2 linked regions of the Homo sapiens genome follow. The protein of the gene in region 2 interacts with the protein of the main gene of each other region in a pairwise test. Each region holds a gene or a part of one and is shown on either strand. Other genes may lie near its edges. The genes, in order: PPM1F and KLHL8.

Region 1 (3,818 bases), on a different chromosome or scaffold from region 2:
TGGCCTCATGGTTCAGGGCCACTAGAGGGTGGAGGGACAACCCTGGCCACTGTTTTGACATGAGTCCAGGTGGGGACTTGTGGGCATCCAGAGATCCGGTCTCAGGAGATGGTGCCAGGAGCAGCAGCTGGGTGGACATTGTCAAGAAGTGACAGAGGAGGAAGACTGTTCCTGGCAGAGGGTGGCCAGCGTGGCCAGAGACGAGCAGGACAGGGATGCCGAGGCCAGGCACTGAGGTAGGTGAGGGGGTTCAACCTGATCACGGGTCCCGAGCAGCCAGGAGGGCTCTGAGGTGAGGGAGTGAAGCCACCAGGTCTGTGAGCCTGGACGTGGTGACCAGATGGCAGGAGGGACACCTGTTGGGGCTCTAGTGGTGTTCAGGGGAGGAAAGAGAAGGGCCAAGATGCGGGAGGCCGGCCCAGGGCTGTTTTGGAGATAGGCCAGAGTGGGAGCAGGAAGGGATCCCCAGAGGCTGCTGGGGCCACCCAAGGGGTGGCCAGGAGAGAAGCAGAGGTTTAATCTGGGACAGACAGGAGGTGCTGTGGGACACCATCGAGCCTATTCAATGCTCTCTAATAGGAGGAGGGAATTGTGAGCCTAGAATGGCTCAGGCCTGCTAAGCCCTGGCTGGAAGAGGGGCACTGTGGACAGTTCCAGGCGCTGACCCCACTGTGCGGCATGTGGGCTCTTCCTCCCTAAGTCCTTAGGGATGACCAGAGCTGACCAGCCCTGGGAGTTGCCCCTAACACCCCAGGAGCCAGGACAAGCCCCCATTTCACAGATGAGAATCCCAAGGTTTGGAGAGGGTTAGTCCCTCGCCTGAGGTGTCAGAAGGAAGACAGGGCCAAAGAGGGATCGCAAAGCCTGTGCCTTCACTCCCTCACCGGCTTCTCTCTCACTGGAAAGAGGCACATGGTGCCTCACAGCCTCCTCCCAGGGTGGCTCTGGCTCCTCTTCTCTCCTAACTCCGAATCTCCATAGTCGCCTCCCCAGCCTGCCTGCCTTGCCTATACCCAAACAGCTCTCCAGCGCCCCCCCTTCCATGTTCTTTGCGTCGCCCCGGGGATTCACCTCCAGGCCCCACACCTGGGCCTCCCTGCCAGCACCCACTCAGCATGGACCCTTCTCTCTCCTGCCCCCTTCCTCTCGGGTGCCTGACCCCTCCAAACCCTCCCCACAGCGGGGACTCCACCTTGGGCTTTGTCTAACACTCAGGCTGGGAAACTTTATTCAGCGAGTCCTACGCAGTAGTGGATGAGATTGGATCCAGAAAAAAATAAAAAAGAAATCCTACACAGTTACTAAGCCAGGGAGAAAAACTGCATTCTTTTATGGTGACAAACGGACATGAGACTCTGAGGAACACCCCGAGTTCTAGGGTGGAGAATTTGGGGAACAGTTTCACAGCCCATCACCTTCATGAGGACTTCCAGGTTCTGAAAACTGAACGAAGAAGGCAAGGAGAATCTTCTAGAATCATCAGTCTTAGAATAGCCACAGACTCTGCCTACAAACTTTGCTAAAAGGGCGGCTGTGGCAGGGGCCTGAGGTGCAGGATGAAGAGAGTGGGAAGTAAGAGATGCAGGGAGCTCACAGCCCACAAGAGGGCTGTCCTTATCAGGAATTGCTAACTTGGAACAAGCCTTCTGGAAGCCTAAAGATAAAAAACACAAAAGAGAATGGGGTGGGCAGAGGGAAAGGTCCCAGCACCAAGTTAAATGTCTGATCAGTGAGGGATTTGGAATGCAAGGGGTGAAGGGTGGTAAATTAACAAAACACAAAACCCTTCTCTTCTTTTAGAGGCAGAATTGAAAGGTAATTTATTTAAAGTGGACACATACAAATAACGTAGGAATAGGGGTGCTTGCTACTGAAGGTTCTGGGGATAGACTAAATTTATTGCTATGGTTCACATTTACTCACAAGTAGGAGTAAATTTAATGCAACCCAGGTTACAGAAGGCAAGCAGGTAAAAGGATAAAGAACATAAAACAACTGGCAAGGCGCTGTGGCTCAGGTCTATATCTCAGCGCTTGGGGAGGGTGAGGCAGGAGGAGTGCTTGAGGCCAGGAGTTCAAGACCAGCCTGGGCAGTGAGATCGCCACCCCCCCCCCACCCCCCATCTCTACCAAAAAAGAAAAAAAAAGAACATAAAGCAAAAAAGGAAAAATCACTTTGAGAGCAGGAGGGACACTGACATTCAAACGACAAAGGGAAGACTGTGAGCTGGAGAAATGAGCAGAGGCTGGGAGCCCTAGTAGGTCAATGAGGAGGCGGCACGTCCTGCCAGCCATGCCCCAGCAGAGCTGTAAGGCATTCGAAGATGGCGTGAATTTCCCAGCAAGCTTGGCTGCCCTCAAGCAGTGCAAGCGGCCAAGGGCCCCTCTTCTGCCTGGGACTGCCCTGGCCCCTGGAGCTTCTGGGAGAATGTGAACGATGCAGAGCTGCCCCCAGCAACTGCCAGTGCCTGGGGCCTCCTCCCACTCCCTTGCAATTCCAAGTGATCTGGAGGCTCTACTGTCTCACCACAAAATGTGCTCATGTGAATTTATGATTAGGATCCAAGTGAGAGGACAGCATGCTCCCCGCTAGAGCACACAGAGGGCCCCCCTGGAGAAACCCCTGCCCACAGTGTAAAGCCCCACTGTCAAGGGCAGAATTCAAGACCCTTCACTTCCACCCCATTTGCTGGTGACGTCTGCTGGACCTTTTGGGATGCAGGTGCCTCCTTCTTGCCTCCTGACCTTGGGGTACTCTTTCCTGTGCCGTGAGCCCCTCCCCACAATCGGCCTGTTCCCTCAGGGAGGGTGGCTCCTCCTGTCTGCACTACAGACCCTGATTCACTGTGGCCACCTGCCTGCTCTCTCTGTGCCTTGTGCCCACTATCTGCACATGCCTCAATGGTGTCTGTGCCATGTGTACTAAGTAAGGTCTGGGGGGTGTGATGATGTGTGTGTGTGAAGCTCTGTCTGCATCTGTAGAGGGGACAGGCTGGCTTACTCTCAGGGCCTGTGCCAACTGCCTGCTCTTGTTACAAAGGCAGGGTGCCCAGGGCCATCTTACTTGCTGGGGACCAAGCACCCTTGTTTCTGCATCACCAACCTAAGGCAAGGGGTGAGGAGAGAAACCAGGACACAGCTTTCTCTCCCTGGAGCCCAGATGTCGAAAGGGACAGGAATCATTTCCTTCCTTTTCCCAATAAGCTCCTGAATCTGACGTACACCATGGCACACCCGGCAGGAAGGAGAAATTCCTCACCAAGGGAAACCAGAGGCAGCCCTGGGAGTGCCTGGAGGGGCAGGGGACAGTGCTGTGGTTCTTTGAGGGATCAACTGGAAGAGACAGCATCAGGAATGGCATGGAGGCCAGCGGCAAGCCGCAGGGAGTAGGGAGAGCTGGGAGAGCACCAGAGGCAGCGGAGCCTGGTGCTGGGCTTTCCTGAGCAGGGCACACCAGTGAAAAACTCCGAATAAGAGGGACGTGTGCATGAGCCTGTGCAAATCACCAAGAGCCCGGGGTGGGCATGGGAGGGACATTGGACTCCTGCATCCCAGCACCGCCTGCCTGGACCAGTCTGACCAAATGCGACTGGCAGCTGGTTCCTCCTGGATCAGGGCCCCACTGCACACCAAATGGGTGCTCACCCTCCTAGAACCTATTTAAGGTCCCACATAGGTGAGAAATGGCAAAGCAAACTCATCGGGGGGCAGCTGCAGGGGTGTGGCTGACGGTGCTGCCAGCTGCCATCCGCCCCTGCTCTGAGCACTCTTCCTGGGATGGCTTTTAGCCTCCCAACAACCTCTTGTGGTTATCCCCAC
Region 2 (3,818 bases):
TTCATATTCCAAATTAACCACATATCATATTCATATATATATATACACATACTTTAAAATTAAAAAAAAATTTTTTTTTTTGAGACAAGGCCTTGCTCTGTTGCCCAGGCTGGAGAGCAGCGGCGCAATCTCAGCTCACTGCAACCTCTGCCTCCTGGGTTTAAGCAATTCTCCTGCCTCAGCCTACCAAGTAGTTGGGATTACAGGCGTGCACCACCACGCCTGGCTAATTTTTGTGGGTTTTGTTTTTTCAGTAGAGACAGGGTTTCACCACGTTGGCCAGGTTGGTCTTGAACTCCTGGCCTCAACTGATTCACCTGCCTCAGCCTCCCAAAGTGCTGGGATTACCAGTGTGAGCCACCACACTCGGCCTCTTTTATATATGTATCTGTAACATACACACAACAAACCATGATTTTCTATGTTATATTTCAGGGACATTTTGTGAATTAATACCAGCAAACATCAGTTAGCACTCATTACATGCCAACCACTATTGTAAGTGCTTTTTTTTTTTTTTTTGAAATAGGGTCTCACCCTGTTGCCCAGGCTGGAGTGCAGTGACGTGATCATGGCTCATTGCAGCCTCAACCTGCTGGGCTCGAGCAATCCCCCAACTTAGCCTCCCCAGCAGCTAGGACTACAGGCATGTGCCACCACACCCAGCTAATTTTTGTATTTTTCAGTAGGGACAGGGTTTTGCCATGCTGCCCAGGCTGGTCTCAAACTCCTGGGCTCAAGTGATTCACGCACTTTGGCCTCCCAAAGTGCTAGGATTACAGGCATGAGCCACAGAGCCTGGCCTTCTAAGTGCTTTTCATATACTAACTCAGTTGTCCCAACATCCCTATGAGTAAGTACTATTATTATCCACAATTTATCAATCAGAAAACTGGAGCAGAGAGTAAATATTTAGTAGTATTTACTATGAGCTCAACTGAGGTTTTTTTTTATTTTCTATTTACATTATCTTGAAATGATATAGCTCACATAAAAGCAGTAAAAAAAAAACACTGCAATCTCATCACCTTAATTATTGAAAAATCAGATAGCTTCCAACAGTATGCTATTACAAATAGCACACTAGTGAACTTCTTTGTAACTAAATCGTTATTCACATTCTCTATTATTCCAACAGATAAATTATTGTAAGTAGAGATGCTGCTTCAAAGGATACAATGTGAATATGTGAATACATAATGTCAAACTGTCCATTTCTGAGCTTCTTACAGTATTTGCACCATATCTTGAGTGTTGTTATTGTTGTTGTTGTTGTACAAAGTCTATGCTGCCCAGGTTGATCTCAAACTCCTAAGCTCATGCAATCCTCCCGCCTCGGCCTCCAAAAGTGCTAAGATTATAGGTGTGAGCCATTGTGCCCGGCCATAGTTGCCAATTTGATGAATAAAAAGATCTCATCTTTTTTTTTCTTTTTTGCTCTTAAGATTGAATCATTTATAAATTTTGAGCTATTTGTATTTCTTCTATGAACTACAAATTTTTTATTTATAAGTACTCATCATATAATCAGAGTATTAGGCATTTGTCATATATATTTCAAACTTCTCTTTTAGTTTGCTTTCAAATTTTATTCTCTTATATAAAAACCCTATGGATTTTTATGTAATTAAATGAAGTCTTTTTATTTATTGTTTTAGGTACCTGCTAGAAATGGGAATCATTCTAATATTCTATATTTACTTCACGTATTTTTTATACTACTTTTATGGTTTTATGTTTTACACTTAAATTTTTACTTACATCTGGAAGTTTTTGGTACTGAGTGGGAAGATATCTTCTTTTTAATACAGTATTTATCCCATTTTCCCAGGAGTTTATAATAATCAAATACAAGTAACAGTTATAGTACTATTTTAACAGTTTTCCTGTTTTCATGTAGTGTTTTGATTATATAATAAACAGTTGTATCTCATTATTTGAGAACTAATTTTAAAATGACAACTCCTAGAGTGTTCAAATGTATAAATGGTTTTGCTTATAAAAGCCCCTTCCTCAGTCTTTTTTCACTAATGTGGAGGAAGAAGCAGTATCACTTATTTCAGAAAGTACAAGACAATCATTTCTGTCTGTTATGCTATATTAAATTTTTTCACAGAACTCACAAGGCAGTATTTAGATTCCATTGAGACTAAAGTTGTAATGTAGACTATAACATAAAGCTTGGCATGTTTTCAAATTCACGTCAGCTCTAAAATGGGATCTGAAATCTGATACTAAATAACTTTTAAATAGCCTAAGCATATCCTTTAAAAAATTATTTCCACATGCCACCACTGGGATTCAGTTTCTATGCAAATATTTGTAAGTCTCACATGACTTAAACCTGCTCCATTAAATAACTTGCCAACACTCTCTTACATAATAGTATCATAAAATAGGGTTCTACAATTTCTAGATAACCATTATTTTAACACTTGCCATCCAAGCTGTACAAATCAATGGCCGGCAAGTCATTTTCATGTTGTTTTTAATAAGATTCTGTCCCTTTACAATTCCATTTGAGTCTTGATTCAAACAAACTAAAATGTGGCTATTTAACACATACACCCCTATGTACCCTTTTAGAATAAATATCCATCTTTATTTTATAAAGATCTTTAAGCCACATGTATAAATAGGAACAGCCAAAAATTTGGCTTTTTAATGCACTGATTCTCCTTTGATGTTATATAGTTAATTACATTCCTGAAAGTTTATTTGTACATTTTCTTTCTCTGGTACAAAAAAATAATTACCAATTACCAAAATCATTTCATTAGAAATTTGAAAATGAAAGGAATCAAAGTCTAAAGACCTGATGTTTAAAATTGGATGAAAAACACACAAGCTACATAATATTAGACATTACCGTGTATTTAGAATTATATAAATACTATATGTCCCTGATACTACTTAATTTTCTAATTTACATTCTTTCTTTGTTAGATCAGTGAACGTGTGACTAATTCAAGATAGTATTACGAAAGAAAAACCTTAGACAATTAAATTTAACGGAGTTTAACTGAGCAAAGACGGATTCAAGAATTGGGCAGTCCTGGAACAAGAATAGGTTCAAAGACACTGGTGCTGGTGCATAGTCGAAAATTATTTACGGACAGAAAAAGGAAGGTGACACACAGAAAACGGAAGTGAGGTACAGAAACAGACGGGTCAGTTACAGCTCAGGGTCAGCCTTACTTGAACACAGGTTGAACAACTGGTTGCCTTTAATTGGCTGAACCTCAGTGATTAGCACAAGAGTAGGTTGCAGTCTGTTTACACAACCAGTTAGGTTACAGTTTACTGTGTACAGAGAAACTTTTAGGCCAAGTTTAAAATACATAAGGTGGGAGCTTCAGGCTAAACTTAACAGTACTCAGGGAAAAATCATGTCACACTTCAGTATTAAAATATGTAGAATATCAACATTCATTAAATGATTCCTTAGACTTTTGTTTAAAAAGCTTGAAATACCAACTATTAATAAAAACTTTGAGTAATTTTCCAGAGATTAGCCAATATGAATGGAAATACAATGAAAATAAGGCTTTTGGATTAGTAAAGCACTTGACTATCAACATACAAAGCATTCCTAACTCCACTAGTTAGGACTTCATCATGGCTCGAGTGCCACTTGCTCGAGCCCGCTCCCACTCTGTGGAGTGTACTTTCATTTCAATAAATCTGTGCTTTTGTTGCTATTGAAAAAAAAAAGAGTTAACATTTATTTTGTAAACTATCTCCACTTCACTTAAAAAAGTTTAGTAAAGGCCGGGCGCAGCTCACGCCTGTAATCCCAGCACTTTGGGCGGGATCCA

The links.
Region 1: the proteins of KLHL8 (region 2) and PPM1F interact in a two-hybrid assay, tested with the Homo sapiens proteins (one large-scale study listed by BioGRID).

Annotation. Positions count from the first base shown.
Region 1 is NC_000022.11:21,946,198-21,950,015, forward strand, and holds part of PPM1F (protein phosphatase 1F), read right to left. Parts: intron 1-3,818. UniProt on the Homo sapiens protein: Dephosphorylates and concomitantly deactivates CaM-kinase II activated upon autophosphorylation, and CaM-kinases IV and I activated upon phosphorylation by CaM-kinase kinase. Promotes apoptosis.
Region 2 is NC_000004.12:87,185,976-87,189,793, forward strand, and holds part of KLHL8 (kelch-like protein 8), read right to left. Parts: intron 1-3,818. UniProt on the Homo sapiens protein: Substrate-specific adapter of a BCR (BTB-CUL3-RBX1) E3 ubiquitin ligase complex required for The BCR(KLHL8) ubiquitin ligase complex mediates ubiquitination and degradation of RAPSN.